2 separate regions of the Homo sapiens genome follow, and region 1 is linked to region 2. Evidence: fine-mapped expression QTL. Tissue or cell type: esophagus muscle. Region 2 holds a variant in brackets; the other region holds the start of a gene. All regions are shown on one strand. Distances are from middle to middle.

Evidence for each region. PIP is the estimated chance that this variant, and not a neighbour inherited with it, causes the effect.
Region 1: it holds the start of NRP2, and the variant in region 2 is fine-mapped to the expression of NRP2 in esophagus muscle (GTEx, PIP above 0.99). The same link has a PIP of 0.9 or more in gastroesophageal junction and lung.

The regions. Positions count from the first base shown.
Region 1 is chr2:205,679,445-205,685,239 of GRCh38, forward strand. NRP2 (neuropilin 2) reads left to right here and starts at 3,057. Exons shown (of 17, transcript NM_003872.3): 1 at 3,057-3,919. The coding sequence starts at 3,847. RefSeq lists enhancers at 1-170, 5,052-5,682 and a silencer at 2,458-2,577.
Region 2 is chr2:205,767,560-205,776,135 of GRCh38, forward strand. The region is part of intron 15 of NRP2 (neuropilin 2); the gene reads left to right. Among named protein-coding and RNA genes, the nearest start is that of NRP2, 89 kb to the left of the region's middle. The variant C/A (reference allele first, on the strand shown) is at 3,840.

The DNA.
Region 1 (5,795 bases), 90 kb before region 2:
TAACTTTCCACAGGGGTGTGGCTTGGTAACAGCTTTCTCTTAGCATCATTTACCAACCTGTTTCATGTTCCCCCACATCCCTTCCCGTCAAAGGAATGGAATGTGGAGTGGATTATCTAGTATTATTTTACAACTAAGGATAATGACATGAAACATCCTAGGTGAGTCAGTGATGTGGCCAGGAATCTCAGCTTCGCTAATTAGCTGTTATCTAGTCAGCTCAGTGTTTTTGATCACAAACCCGATTTTTGACACTGGCCTTTAGGTAGGCAGGCTTCCCTATGGGCCAGGGATGTGGACTCACAAAATACTGAAAAGCACGGTGCCTACCTAGCTCTTTACCACTATACCTCTGGTGGAAACCAGACCAACTGCAGTCAAACCCTGAGATCCCAGTCTAGAGGGAAACAAGACTGGCAGGTCTGAGCCAGTCCCAGTGTGAAGAATTTCCCTAAAGATTTGTTTTCCATGTGGCACATGTGAGATTTGTGTTTAGTTCCCAAGAGTCCTTGGAAGTCTTAGGTTAAAACAATTCTAAGCCCTCTCTGGGCCGGTGGGGTCTTGTTCAGAGTAGGCTGGGGAGAGATCGGCCTCACTCTGAATCTTCCCTGGTCTGATAAAGCACTTTGAACTCCTTGGAATTAAAAGCACCACCAGAAGTGTGACCCTGGGTGGTGTTACCATTATTTATTGAGTGCTGCCCCCTAGAGGATTGAAAAATGGTCTGGCCGCTTGAGTCCCCAGGGATGGAAACCTGAGACTCACTCTCTGTCCAACTGCAGGAAATGAGGCCTTCACTCAAGGGGAGTGGGAAGTCTTGCAGCCCTGGTACAGAGGACTCCCAGGAAGTAAGTGAGCGTCCCCTGTAGGACACCGCTGAAAAATGAAAAGTTACAGTGTAGGCAACCAGGCCAGGAACAAAACTGATTCTTACTTTTCTCTACTCTGGAAGCAGCCTGATGGGGACCTTCATCCCTGAGACCCCAAGACCAGAAGTCCAGGGTTGTCATTCTTATGGTTCTCCAGTGGGCTTAGGTTTACCTTTTCTCTCTTCTTTCCCCCTTTCACAGTGCCCTTCACCTAAACCCTGGCTACATTATTCTCACAAACAGGAGTCTCCCACATTGGGCACTGGCAAAAATGGTTTGGCATGCCTGGTGAGTGGTGGGGAGAGGTGATATTAAATGGCCCTCTCTATTCAGGGACTGTCACTACAGATAGCGTTCTTTGTCCTTAGATTAGCATCTTGGCAATGACATAAACCGGGATCTCTGCTTAAGGTTAATAATCCAAACTGCTCTTTTACTTTGTTAAATATTTAAGGCTTGGAGTCATTCTTTACAATTGAGCTTTAAAGAGGAGAAATGTAAATCTGGAGTTTTTAATAATGTGGATGTGCTCTCAAGCCTAGAAAGGAAGGAAGAAGGAAGGAAAGGAGGGAGGAAGAGGAAGGAGGGAGGCAAAGAGGGAATGAAAGGTAGCATTTAGGCTAGCCAAGAGACATGCTCCCTGGAAGAACTCAGAGGCCTCTGTGCTGTGCCTTTCCCAACCAGGCATCTGAGATTAACAGTGTGATACTCAGCCTGTGGATTTCCACTCTAAAATCCCGCGCCACCCCCCAACACAGCTTGGCTCAACTATTTGCAAATCACTTCTGATTCAATTTTGTTTTGGTTATCTCAGTGTAAATAACAGTTAAGTGGGAGTTACAGATTTTTCAAACACTAAAAGTGATAAAGCTAATGGGCAAGTCCAGATAAGGAGGGAAACCACCCAGAAGAATCCACAAGTACAAGCCAAGAAGAAAATGGGTAGTCAGGTGTGTGTTTCTCGTCACCGAAACTGTATTTTTCTTAATCTACAGAAAATTTTACTTTCTTAATTTAAAAAAAATCTTAATCTGTAAATATTTTTCTGAATTTTCTTATTTTTCATATACCTCTTTTGTGGCAGAAAAGGTGTACATGTGCAGGGTGTAATTTAGGCTGTTTCTGTTGCAGTCTTTATGATAATGTAGTAATAGGTGTCTGGTGAAGCAAGACAGTTTGGAATCCACAAAGCCATCCTCAGAAACAAAGATACAAGTGTTTCCCCAACTGTTAGCTTGCAGTTCCCTCTAAACAGTTTTCACGCCTCCATTTAAAAATAGTTGGCATAATGATGTTTTCTTTCTCTAGGCTTTGTGACCACGTTTCCATGGGGGAAAATGTGAATAGACGTAGTTACAGTAGCATTTGGATGAGACGCCTTCAAGCACCTATACTTTTTCGGGGGAACTTGATGGAATCCAATTTAATTACCTGAAGAAATTATTTGCTGAAGAAAGTCTTTCCTCTTTTTAGGGTAGTTACAGTTAAAGGCGCAGGGGTAACGAAATCCTAACCCAGAGAGGAGCAGAGCATGTTTGGGACATAACAAAGGATCTGAGTAGTAAACGCAGCGAGTGTTTGGGGTTTTATTCAGACCGGGCTGACGGTGTGTGTCGCCGCCACGCACCGCTGCCTGTTCGAACGCATGGCTGAGCTGCCGACCGGCTCGCTACCCCAAACACCGTACGCCACCCAACTCCTCTTGTAACGCCATCGCGCGTGGCATTGTGTTGGGTTCTGCGTGTGTGGCATCGGAGTCGTGGAATTTAGGGGGAACAAGGCTTTTCCCCCCGTCCCCCCGGGGTCTCCCTTGGGTGGGGGCGACACGGCCAAGGCGGCGCGCCCTGGGGGTGCCCGGGGGCGCTTCTTCCCCAGGGCGTTACGCACCGGCGGCCCGGCGCGGAGGTGCGCGGGGGCGATCGGGAGATGCGGGGCGGGCGAGGGGTGGTGGGATGGGCGCCGCCTTAACTTCGATCCTGCGGCGGCCCGAGAGAAGCCGTCGCCGCCCCGCCCGAGCTGGGTGCCGCGGCACTCTGCTCTGCGCCGCGCGTCTCCGCGGCTGCCTCTTTAATCAGGAACACAGAAGGGGCGGGCCCTGAGCCGGCGCGTAATCGGATAGCTCTGCCGCGGCTCTGACATCCACATGCTGCTCGGCCTGAAAAGGCAGTGGGGAGCCGGAGGGGAGGCAGAGATCGCGAGCGAGGCACCAGCCTGCAGCCGGCCCCCAGCACATCCTCAGCCGCACAGACACTCGGCGAGGTGGAGGTGAGGGCGGGCGCCAGCGAACTCGGAGAGGGGCTCGCTCACTCCCAGGCGATCCCAGCCGCCACCGCCGCCGCACCAGCAGCAGCAACAGCAGCAGCAGCTTCCTTCCTCAGACTCCCCTCGAGAGGCTGGCCAAGCGGGTGTAGCCGTTGGGGGAGGCTCCCGCCGGGGGAACCCGGCGAGGACAAGAGCAGGGCGGCCGCCTTCCACTCGGGCTGTCCGGCGGCGGCTGCCTCCGCCCGTGTGTCCGTCAAGGGTGCCGCGGGATGTGTGTCAGTTTACGCCTCTGAGATCACACAGCTGCCTGGGGGCCGTGTGATGCCCAAGGCAAGTCTTGGTTTTAATTATTATTATTATCATTATTGTTACGCTTGGCTTTCGGGAAATACTCGTGATATTTGTAGGATAAAGGAAATGACACTTTGAGGAACTGGAGAGAACATATATGCGTTTTGTTTTTAAGAGGAAAACCGTGTTCTCTTCCCGGCTTGTTCCCTCTTTGCTGATTTCAGGAGCTACTCTCCTCCTGGTGAGGTGGAAATTCCAGCAAGAATAGAGGTGAAGACAAGCCACCAGGACTCAGGAGGGAAACGCTGACCATTAGAAACCTCTGCATAAGACGTTGTAAGGAGGAAAATAAAAGAGAGAAAAACACAAAGATTTAAACAAGAAACCTACGAACCCAGCTCTGGAAAGAGCCACCTTCTCCAAAATGGATATGTTTCCTCTCACCTGGGTTTTCTTAGCCCTCTACTTTTCAAGACACCAAGTGAGAGGCCAACCAGGTAAGCCACTGAAAGTTTTTCTATTTATTGCAACATGGTTTCCCCTTTAAAAGTGACCGCTAAAGCAGGAAGGCCACGCAGAACGGCACAGAAGAAGGCTCCCTCAGTACTCAATAATTTAAAGAGAGATCCCAGCCGGCCCTTCCTACACCACCACGGCTGCTAAAACCCAACTTTCCTCTCCTGCTAGGAGTGTGTGTGTGTGTGTGTGTGTGTGTGTGTGAGTGTGTTTTGAAACAGAATTTGGCGGTGTTCATATGTCACATATGGACTGAATCAAAGGTTTAAAAATACTACAAAGCCTTTGCATTACAGTTTTTGGGAATTTTTTTTCCCTGTCTTGAAGCAGAACACATCTCCCTTGAGTTTCTCCAACTAGCCAGTGAAATATAAATCATTTGCATTCCCTCCACTTAGCTACATTGAGCAATGTTAACTGAAGGGCTTGGGAAAGACAAGAGTTTAGTTTTGGTTTTCAGATGCTGTAGATTCTTTGGAGAATGACTGGTTATGCTTCAGAATCATAAGGCTCAGGCTGGTGGAGCAAGTTGGCTTGTGGCTGAGATAGGGGCTTGGGGTTGGGTGCTGCTGGCAACCAAGACGGTTGGTCTCTTCTCTCTTCATCCATGTGTTGTCTGGGAAAGTAAATCGTACGTTCTTTTAGAAATTATTATTAGCTAAAACAAATTGCAGGCCCTCGAAGGTCTCTCACTCTTGTGAAGTGGTTAGAAACTTTTGAGTGGAATTTGTTCTCAACCACTGCCAAAAAGGGTGTGTGGACAGGCTGCTGTGGAGATAAGCATTTCGAGGCCCAGAACAGTCTGGGGACCGCATTTGTGGGGAGCGGCAAGGGGTATGCTCTGGAAAGGGGAATCCATGGGGAATGCAGTGGGGTTTGTGCTTCCTTCTCGGACCACTCTCTAGAGTGAGCCTCCCTACCCCTCTGAGAACAGTGTCTGGAATCTAACAACAAAACTCTTAGCAGCTGCTACAGGTGATTGGAGATGGAGAAACCATCTATGGAGGAAATGGGTGAAAGAAAGGCGAAAAAGCCTTCCTGAAGTGCCCTCACCCAAGGCACTTGCAAGGCGATGGCGGCAGTGGTAGAGCTAACTCTGCAGCCTCCTTGGCATCCCCAGAACATCAGCTAGTGGATCCTAGCCTTGCATCTGGTACTGTCACCCTTCCTTCTCCTCACGCCCCCCACCAGCACACACACCACTTTAAGCTTGGGCATTTATTTGAGGGGGGAAGAAAATTCAGGAATGCCTTTGCCACCCAGATCCGCACGTTTGCAGCTCTTTCTTTGCCATAAGTGGTCTTCAGGGCAGCTGCAAATCCTGCCAAAGGGATGGGTGGGGGTCCCACTTGGGGAGATTTTCTGGGCCTCCGCCGTTCCCCCTTGCCTTATTTCTAAATTCCCAGCTTGAAGCGGAATTAAATTACCACTCACAGACCTGGATGCTGCGTAAATTATGTATGTTTGTGTGATTCGCTGTGTGTGTGTGCACACGCGCGCGCGCCGTGAGGATGCCCACAGTATATTATGTATTCAGACACGGACTCCAGTAGGCCCCAGCGCGCGAGCGCGCACACACTGGCACTCACACTGGCGCGCACACACATGCAACTTCAGGTTCCGTGTGCTGTGCGGAGCGGGAGGGGTCGTGAAGACTCAGGGGCCATCTCCTACCCCAGATGTTCGCACATCTGTCCCCGAGCGCTGCTTGGAGTGTGTGTACGTGTGTGCGCGACACCCGCTTGGACCCACTCCCGCTCTGCCACCTGCCTGCCGCGCTCTCTGCAGAACCCCCTCCCATCCCAATCCCCAGCAGTGCTGCGTCACTTCCAGAGAAGCCCAGAGGCGCGGAGTTCG
Region 2 (8,576 bases):
CTTGCCTCATCCAGGTTATAAAAAAAAAAAAAGGCCTCCAGCCTTGGGTGATGGCAATGTTGTTTGTGCTGTTACAATGCAGCAGATTTTACATTTTGCCCTCTTTGCAAACCTATTAGCGGACACTGCTGAAGTTCCCACACCGGTTTCTAATGCCAAACATTTAGGAGCCACTCTAAATGCGTCACTGCAGTTGGCCTGAGTGTAAAAGCACACACAAAAACACCCTCACCAAATGATGGGGGTTCTTCATGACCTGTTTGATGCCAGCAATTGTGAGGATTGCTGTGCCCTCTTTGTACTGGCTGGGCTTACCCCTACAAGTGGCAGCATTGCAGAGATAAGGGCAGCCATTTTTATATCTGCCGTCTAGACTCGTTATCTTCACTCTCATTAATCTGTCCAGCTCTGGGCTAGAAAGAGATGAATTCCTGGTTTGCCACCTAGATATGCTCCCTGACTCCAAATCATCTCACCCAATTTGCCACTCATCAGCTCTAAGACAGCCAGTGAGGAACAAAGCTGCAGACGACAGGGGAATGACAGACCGACATAGAATATATTGCCTTTCTTACCCTTCCTCGTGTCCCTGAACCCCATGCCCACTCCCTGTACCACAGTTCTAAAAGTATTAAGAGTATTCATGTGCATACACTGGTGCTCTCTGGGGGTGAGGTTTATGTTAATGTAAATCCAAAGTATTGGAGGAAAGCTGAGAGCCAAACTGAACGACTTTGGATTACAGTCGAATTCGAGTTCTAACCTTCAGGACCCAAGGTAATGCTTATGTTGGTGAAGTGAAAGCTGTGGATGTTGTTTCGCCTGACTCTCTTTGGGTTGTGGAGACTCACAGCTCCCAGAAAGGCTGGGTAAAGACGTGCCAGCAGCTGCTGCAGACACTGTTCTGTGTGCACACCGTGTCGGGCCATGACTGACAAGTACAGTGGCTAAGTGCTAAGTGCTTCACTTCCGTAAGAGAATAAGCAGACCAGGGCACGTACACTCTCCTTGAAACTGTGCTTACCATGAGGCTTCACAGGCCAGTCATGCTCTCTTGTAAAAAATATATACATAAAATCTCATCTGAGCAGCAGTGCTCATTTAGCCAAAATAAACACAGGGCTTAGTAACTTGAAGGTAAGAATTTCCAGGGTGCTCCTGGTGGGCCGCTTTGAGGCTAAGCAAAGGCAGTGCACAAGTTGCATGGATTAGGCCATGGCTTTCGTCCTGGAGGATGGCAAGCATCTTTGGGAAGAAGAAACCAAGGCTTGGGGAGCAGAGACTTGGCCAATGGACACAGTAAAGAGCAGAATCTGAATTGGGAATGGAGAATTTCATTCACCTTGGCACGTTTTACATGGAGATCTGAGTTGGTAACCAGATGAACCTAGTGCCATGGGTCTCTTCTTTCTGGCTGAGACCTGTTTGACCACAGCATGCAACTCTGCCTTGAGCAAACTTTTCTGTTTGAGAGAGGAGAGGACTGTGTGTTCCATCTAACCTAGTGACTCATATACTATTCCTCTTATGGTCAGGACAGCAGGAGTCCTCTCTTGATCCGGGCATAAAATCAGCCTTTTCACTCAAAAAATGGAAACAGAGAAATCAGGGGGCAGGCAAGGTATGGAAAGTTGATGTTGAAACACTGCCAACCATAGGCATTTACATTGTTATACATTTTTCAAATTAGAGTGTTTTTCTTTTCCCTTATAAATTAATCATGCAACAAAGGTAATCTCATTCTTTGGGAGCAATCACTGTACAGGTAAATCTTTAGTGAAATACAATAAAAGTGGCCTTTGGACCTGGAGTTATTAGATGGTCGCAATCTTTTATATTTGGAAGTATCTTTCATTTTCCGCCTCTTACTGATTTCTTGCCATGCAATATTATTTTAAATTTAAATCATCCTGTGTTTTCTGCTGTGTGTGTGTATATACATACATACACACACACACACACACACACACACACACACACAGACACATTGTGTGCCAGGATGTGAGTCAGTAATGAAGAAAAGCCTGGAAGAAAAAGAGATCTGTGTTGAGAAGGGAGAAAGAGAAGAAAGAATGAATAAACTGTGTTGTCATGTGATTTTTTAAAAAGACCCTTTTTTGTGGTTGTTATGAGTCACATTTTAAACAATGTAGCCTGGGTGTGCATTCTTTTCTTTTCTTTTTTAAAGCAGTGGCTATAAACATGGTGCCGTCATGTATCTTTTTCTAGGATTTGAGCTTTAACAAATGAAAAACCGTGTGTATAAAGGGGGGAAAAAGAACCGAAAAGTGGTGTAATTAAGGTGATGGATTATTTCCTCTTACCCAATACTTTCTTTTTTCAATAAAGGAAACAAGAACAATAAAGAAGCCAGTAAAAATATATGAAGCCCATAATCAGAGTTCTGGGGTTTGTTGACCAGGTGGTTATTTTTAGCAGCTCACCTTGGAGGCAAGAGTTTTTGTTCGTGTTAGAGGCTGTGGTTTCTGAGCAGAGCACGGGCAGAGAGACGATCTGGTGCCCTACCTGTTAGAGACTCACGGAAATCCCAGCTGGGTGCACCTGTGGAAGGTGGTTGTCAGAGGGAAGGATTCAGAATGACTGTCCTACGCTAGTGGATGCTAAAAGGAACATCAATGTCTCCCGTTTCAGCTGGGAATGTGGGGTTTATGACTCAGACCATTCCTAAGGTCCAGGGGCCCCATTTCTCGGGTCTCCCTAGGTGCCTTTCTGCAGTTCTCCACAGTTCTCATCCAGACAAAACCAGGAGAAAGTGCACATCCACAGCTGTCTCTTGGGCATAGAGGGGAGCAGTATTAAGAGAGGCCCATTTTGGGGGTAATGCTGGCTGGCATTTGACTCTATTCCTTAGGCTTTAAGTTCTGTTTCTTTGGTGCCAACTGGCCAATCTCTGCATTTTGCACCCCCTTCTCTCCTTTCCCATTCCCACCCTCACCCTCTATTGCCTGCCTCCCAAGGCTTTGTCCACCAGGGTAAGGTCCCCCATCCCAGGGCCTGGCCTCACATTCCCTTTCTCCCTGGACTCCCTTCCTCCCACGCCTCCTTCTCCTAGAAGCACTTCTGAGATGCAGAGAGGGTTAAATGGTGCTTTTGCACATAACCGTCTGATGAAAGGCAGAGAAGTGTTCCTAACCCCTGCCGGGGTTCCAGATAGGCAGCTGTAGTGTGTGAATCCTCCTCCTTGCCCCCACCCCCTTATGTCTCCAGCTGCCAGATTAAGGCTAGGTGTTGCTGAGCAAGAAAGCATGGAGATCAGATGTGTGAAGCGGGTAACTGCTTGGCGGCCATCCTTCCCCAGGGGACACAGAGGTGTTCTTTGTGAGGTTCGCTGGAGCATGCCACCTCTCCTGCTACAGAGGCCTGACACGTCCCCTCTCCATCAGTTTACCACTCATGTAAACAACTGCCGAGGCCAGCTTATCTATGGGTGGAAGAAAATGTTTTTCACCAACTTTTCTCTCCAAGAACACAGGGACAAGACTCAGTTTACAGAAAGTAGCATAAGTGCCACCAAAGAGTGTGAAGCGTCCGAGACTTCAGCCAGTCAGAGATCTGAATTCGGAGGCATTTAAAAATGCCTCTAGATGTGGGAGCAATCCACATGGTTTCTGCCAACTTACTGAAAACATCCCGGCGCCTCCCGCCACACCATGCTCATAAGGCAGATGGAAAGAGTCGTTTCTCAGGGATGCCTTTGTGCTTGTGCGTCTTTTTTCCAAACACATCAGAGGGCGTGACCACATTCTTCTACTATCTTCTGTAAACTTCTCTAGAGGAGCCAACCTTTTTCGTTTGTTTAATCTCACAAATTAAATAAA[C/A]CTTTATGTGAAATGTTCCTCCACCAGCACTTCATTTTTAACCTGTACAGAAAGGACTGTGCAGACAGGCCAGTCCTAAAACAATTCTGACATGCAATGAGCCTTTTTTGAAAGAGAAAGAGAGAAGGCTTACCCTTGGTGTCTTTCAAAACACTTCTTCTGGAAACCTGGGTGACTCCCCCAGGTCCAGATGATATTTCATAAAGCAGCTATAGTATATGCTTTCTCATTTCAGAGATTCAGTGAGAAACTGACTTGACTGAGACACGCCAATCCTCAGACAGGTTCAGACAGAAATAGGAGGCAGAAAGGAAGAGGACTGTTTCCTCTTCCCTCCCTACTTGGTTAGAGCAAGGAATCTGCAAACTTGTTCTGTAAAGGCCAGATAGTAAATATCTTGGGTTTTACAGGACATACAGTCTCTGTTGCAAGTATTCAGCTCTGCCATTGTGGCATAAAAGCATCCATAAGCAATATGTAAACAAATGAGGGTGTCTGTGTTCCAACAAAAATTGATTTACACAAACAGGCAGTGGGCTGGATTTGGCCAATAGGCCACAGTGAGCTGACCCCTGGGTTAGAGCACAGGCTGGGATTTTGTCCACCTGGTTCTAGCCGTGACTCTGACACTTGCTAGCAGTGTACAGTTCCTCAGGGGACCCTGGGCCATCTCTTGGGTTTCACTGAATGCTTCTCTGCCCTTCTCCACAATTATCCTCCAAGTGAAACCAGGAGAAAATCACTTGTCCTCTCAAGTACTCAGGTCTCCCTTTGGAGGGTCATGAGGAATAAACAAAATTGATTCATGTGAAGCCCGTAGACCAATGGTTAATACACAGGAAATGTCCACTCAGGGTGGCCGTTGTTACAGACACGTTTCCCAATTGCATAGTGACCCTATTTGCAGATAGGAATGACCGGAACACTACCTCATGTGTAACTGTTTTTCTTATTTTCTCCCATGCCTGGTTTCTCAAACTTTATTGTTTCTCAAAATTCAAATTCTTTGTGTTTGCATTGCTTTTCTCCAGGGGGCTCAGAATTTTTACAGATGGGAGCCTGTGCAACCTTGCAAATGCACTTGGAGTTCAGTTATTGACTATTTAAGTATCTGTTTCTGATTATCTCACACAATGGGAAAACTTTGTAGAGAATCTGGGGTGGGAATTAATGAAAAATAGTTCAGGAATTGAAAGTGTTTTCCAGGTGAAAAAAGACATGTGAGTAAGCGGTAGAAATTAGATCAATCAAAGGGAAAATTCAGGTCAACAGATCAACCAACTCCAGGCAAGGTTGAATTCTCACCTACACTTTCACCCACCTAGCCCAGGCTCCTTTTTTGTCAAGCAATGGCTCGATCACCCCCAGATGGCTGAAGGGGCAAGTGAAGCTAAAATTGCACAACTCAGCAATTCGGGCATCTGGTGCAGGTGACATCTGCCTAAAGTGGGCACCTTTTTCTAATTTCCCATAGAGGTGCCACATGAGCTAGCAAAATCTCTAGCACTTTCTGAAAATAACTCTCCAGGGAAGTACCAGTAGGTCATCAACATTTTCCAGGGAGTCTGAACATTGGTCCAAATATATTCCCCTATGCCATCCGTCCATTTATCCATCCACCTATCTATTCATCCATCCATCTGGCATTCATTGGATTGCTGATGTTGTCTGGGAAGGTGCTTTGGGTATGGATTTAACCCCTATTGATTTATCGTCTTCCTTTTCTCTAGTTGGCAAACCACAGCCTCATTAGCATACAGCTCTCCAAGGCTGGAACAGGGCCAGATTCTAAACCAGCACACTCCACCTGCCTTTGGAGTTGAGTCTTTTTAGCTAGTGAATGTTCTGAGAAACTTCTAGCCCCCAGCTGCAAGTCAACCAAGAGTTGCTTGTAGGGGATCAGGAAGGGTTTGCTAGTCATATCCTCTCTTTTCTAACATTAACGTTATTTCTAACCTCTTGACATTAAAACATGAATTCACATAGTACTATTTCTCATTTCTCCAAACAAATGCCCAAAGAAAATGTTTAAGGAGCCAGTATAATGTCCCCCAAGTAGCTTTTGTCACTGAAGTTTTCTACATGTTGATAATTTCAGGGGAGAGAAGGATAAGTAGAGAAGGAGAAGAGGGTCTTACTTAAAGTGGAGTTTGTCTTTCAAGTAGAGCAGGATTCTGAGAGACTATGTCTGTGTCTCTGATTCTAAATATGTAATCCATGTACTAGGATTTCACCTTCCTCCAGCAGGTCCCCTTGATTCTCTCCATTGTGCCCTAACATTGTCTCTTATCGTAAGAAACACTGTAAGAGAAACATGAAGGCTTCATCCTTCTCCAGCCTGAGCACTTTAAGCCATAGGTTGTGTATTTTGTGTTGGAAACCAGCATTTTGGCTGAAGGAAAGCAGACTTTTGAACAAAGATGATGTAGTGATGGAGGGAATGTGGGTAGTTGTGACCATGTTCTGCTTGACAAAAATTTCTGCTCCCACCTCTGTGGTCTGGTCAGGTACTTCTTTAGAGGGAAAGCTAATCCCTGAGGATTTATCACCTCCCTTTTCTTGATGGGTGAGCTGCAGCCTCATTAGGGGATGGCCCTCACTGTGGAGCCACATGAAAATCAGAGACAAACCCCAGGACACCCTTTGGGGAGAGAAGGGATGTCTCTGAGGAACTCTGGGGGCATCCCTTAACACTTTGATGTTTCCTGTGCATTTTTGTAAGCTCATATCGAAAATCCAGCAGCAGGATGGTTGCCAGGCAGCAGATCCTCTTGGTGACCTGAATAATGAATTGACACCAGTTGACTGTGACTTGCAAGCTGGCCACTTCAAGGAGCCATTTCCAGCACCTTGCTTTCTCTTCCTCTCTTTCTATGCATAATTTCCACCATGGCCACAAATATGAGAGAGAGAGAGGCCTTTCTCAGCTATGGTAATGAAACTAGTAAAAGACAGAATTAGTTTGGGGACAAAGACAAAGAGGGCAGGCAATAAGGTGGGAGAAGAGGAAGATGTATAAAGGGACATTCAGGGGATCCTGGGATTCTGGGGTCATTTCTACCCCAGGGGTTGTGGATGTGGCTGTCAAGGTGTGTGCAGAGCAACACATCCTTGTCAAAGCTCTGCCAATGTTGTGGGACTTCTGGTCACCCAAGAGGTGCCAATGAACCTGCACCCTAGCGGAAGGGGATTCATACAGCAGGAGAAAGCAGTGATTAAGAGCTAAGAAGTTGAGCAGGCTTTGAAATATTTTCCAAGAAAAATGTTCTCATTTTTCTATCACTTCTGAGAAGACATTAGAAGGTCTGACCCACCTCCCACCTATTCCCCAGATCAAAGAGAGGAGTTCTGATGTTCAGGCTGCAGGAATTAGAGAACACAGACTCAGAAATAGGAGTCTTAGCCTCAGTTCAGTGTTTGATTCACCAAGCATTTATTGAGTGCCTTCTTTGTATAAACCCTTAGGTATGGATGAGAGCAAGTTCCTCATGATGAGAGTGAGTTCCTCTGCTTAAGGAGCTCTGAATCTTAGGGTGGGTAGTGTAAGGAGGCATGAAAATAGAAATGAGCCCCGTTTGCATCTTGAGCAGAGGGGGACCACCCTCTGCTCACAGGGTAGGACCACTAATGCATGAAGGAGCCCGCAGCACTTCCCACCCATGGCTCCCCTGCTGGGGCACCCCATGAGTAGAGAGGATGCATCTTTCCGGCTTAATGCAAACAGCTAGGGAGGCATTTTTCATAGGAGAAGCATATATCATTTTTCAGAAGTAAAGATCATGTCTGGTTTTGGCAAGCTCAAAAGCTCCTAGTCCCTTTCTGGGCCAGATTCTCATCTGATGTAAATCTTTGGGAGAATCAAGTTGTAACACTGCTTTGCATCAAGTGGGACTCCAGCCAGTCTTTCCCCAGAGTTACCCTGGGCTTAAATCTACTACATCATCTCCATAGCAACCGGCAGCGGCCAGTGAACGTGGTTGCCTTCTAAATACTCTGCCAGCTTCTCTTCCCTGCTCTGTCTTTTCTGTCATTAAGAATGATTTCCCTCCCTCTCTCTCTCACTCACTCACTCTCGCTCTCACATACCCTCTGTCATTTTGTGCCCACATTTTTTTTGTTGCAACTTCCCTTCCAATCTGCTTTTAAAAATCCTCCATCCAATTAAAAAATGAGGATGCATTAGTCATGACTTAACAGTGGTGATTGACCTGTCTAGGCAAGACCAGGCTAATTTCAATGGGCACAGAAGCCTTGGCAAGCCAAAGTGGAATTTACCTTCAAGTCTAGCCAGCTTAATTAATACATTGTTGCTGAGAATGCTGGCCAGCCAGACCAAATATGGTGTTTCCACCACTCAGGAAATCTGCCTCACTGAATCCCGGAAGTCATGTCAGCATCATTTACTTGTATGTATTTGTGTATGTGTATGTGTGTGTGTGAGAGAGAGAGGGAGATGGAGGGAGAAAGAATTAGAACACTTCCATATATTATAAAGTGATTGTGGTTGAACAGAAAGAGAAGAGATGTGTAATTCTACCATTCTTGGTTGAATCCCATACTTACTATTTAACTAGCTGTATAACCACTTAACTTAACCTCTCTCCACCTCTGTTTCCTCATCTGTAAAATGGGTCTGACAATAGCTACCTCCCAAGGGGGTAAGTAGGAAATAATGCAATCGTTGAGAAGTGCTTGGCAGGTGCTAAGGACTGAGTACCACCTTAGTCCCCCAGACCC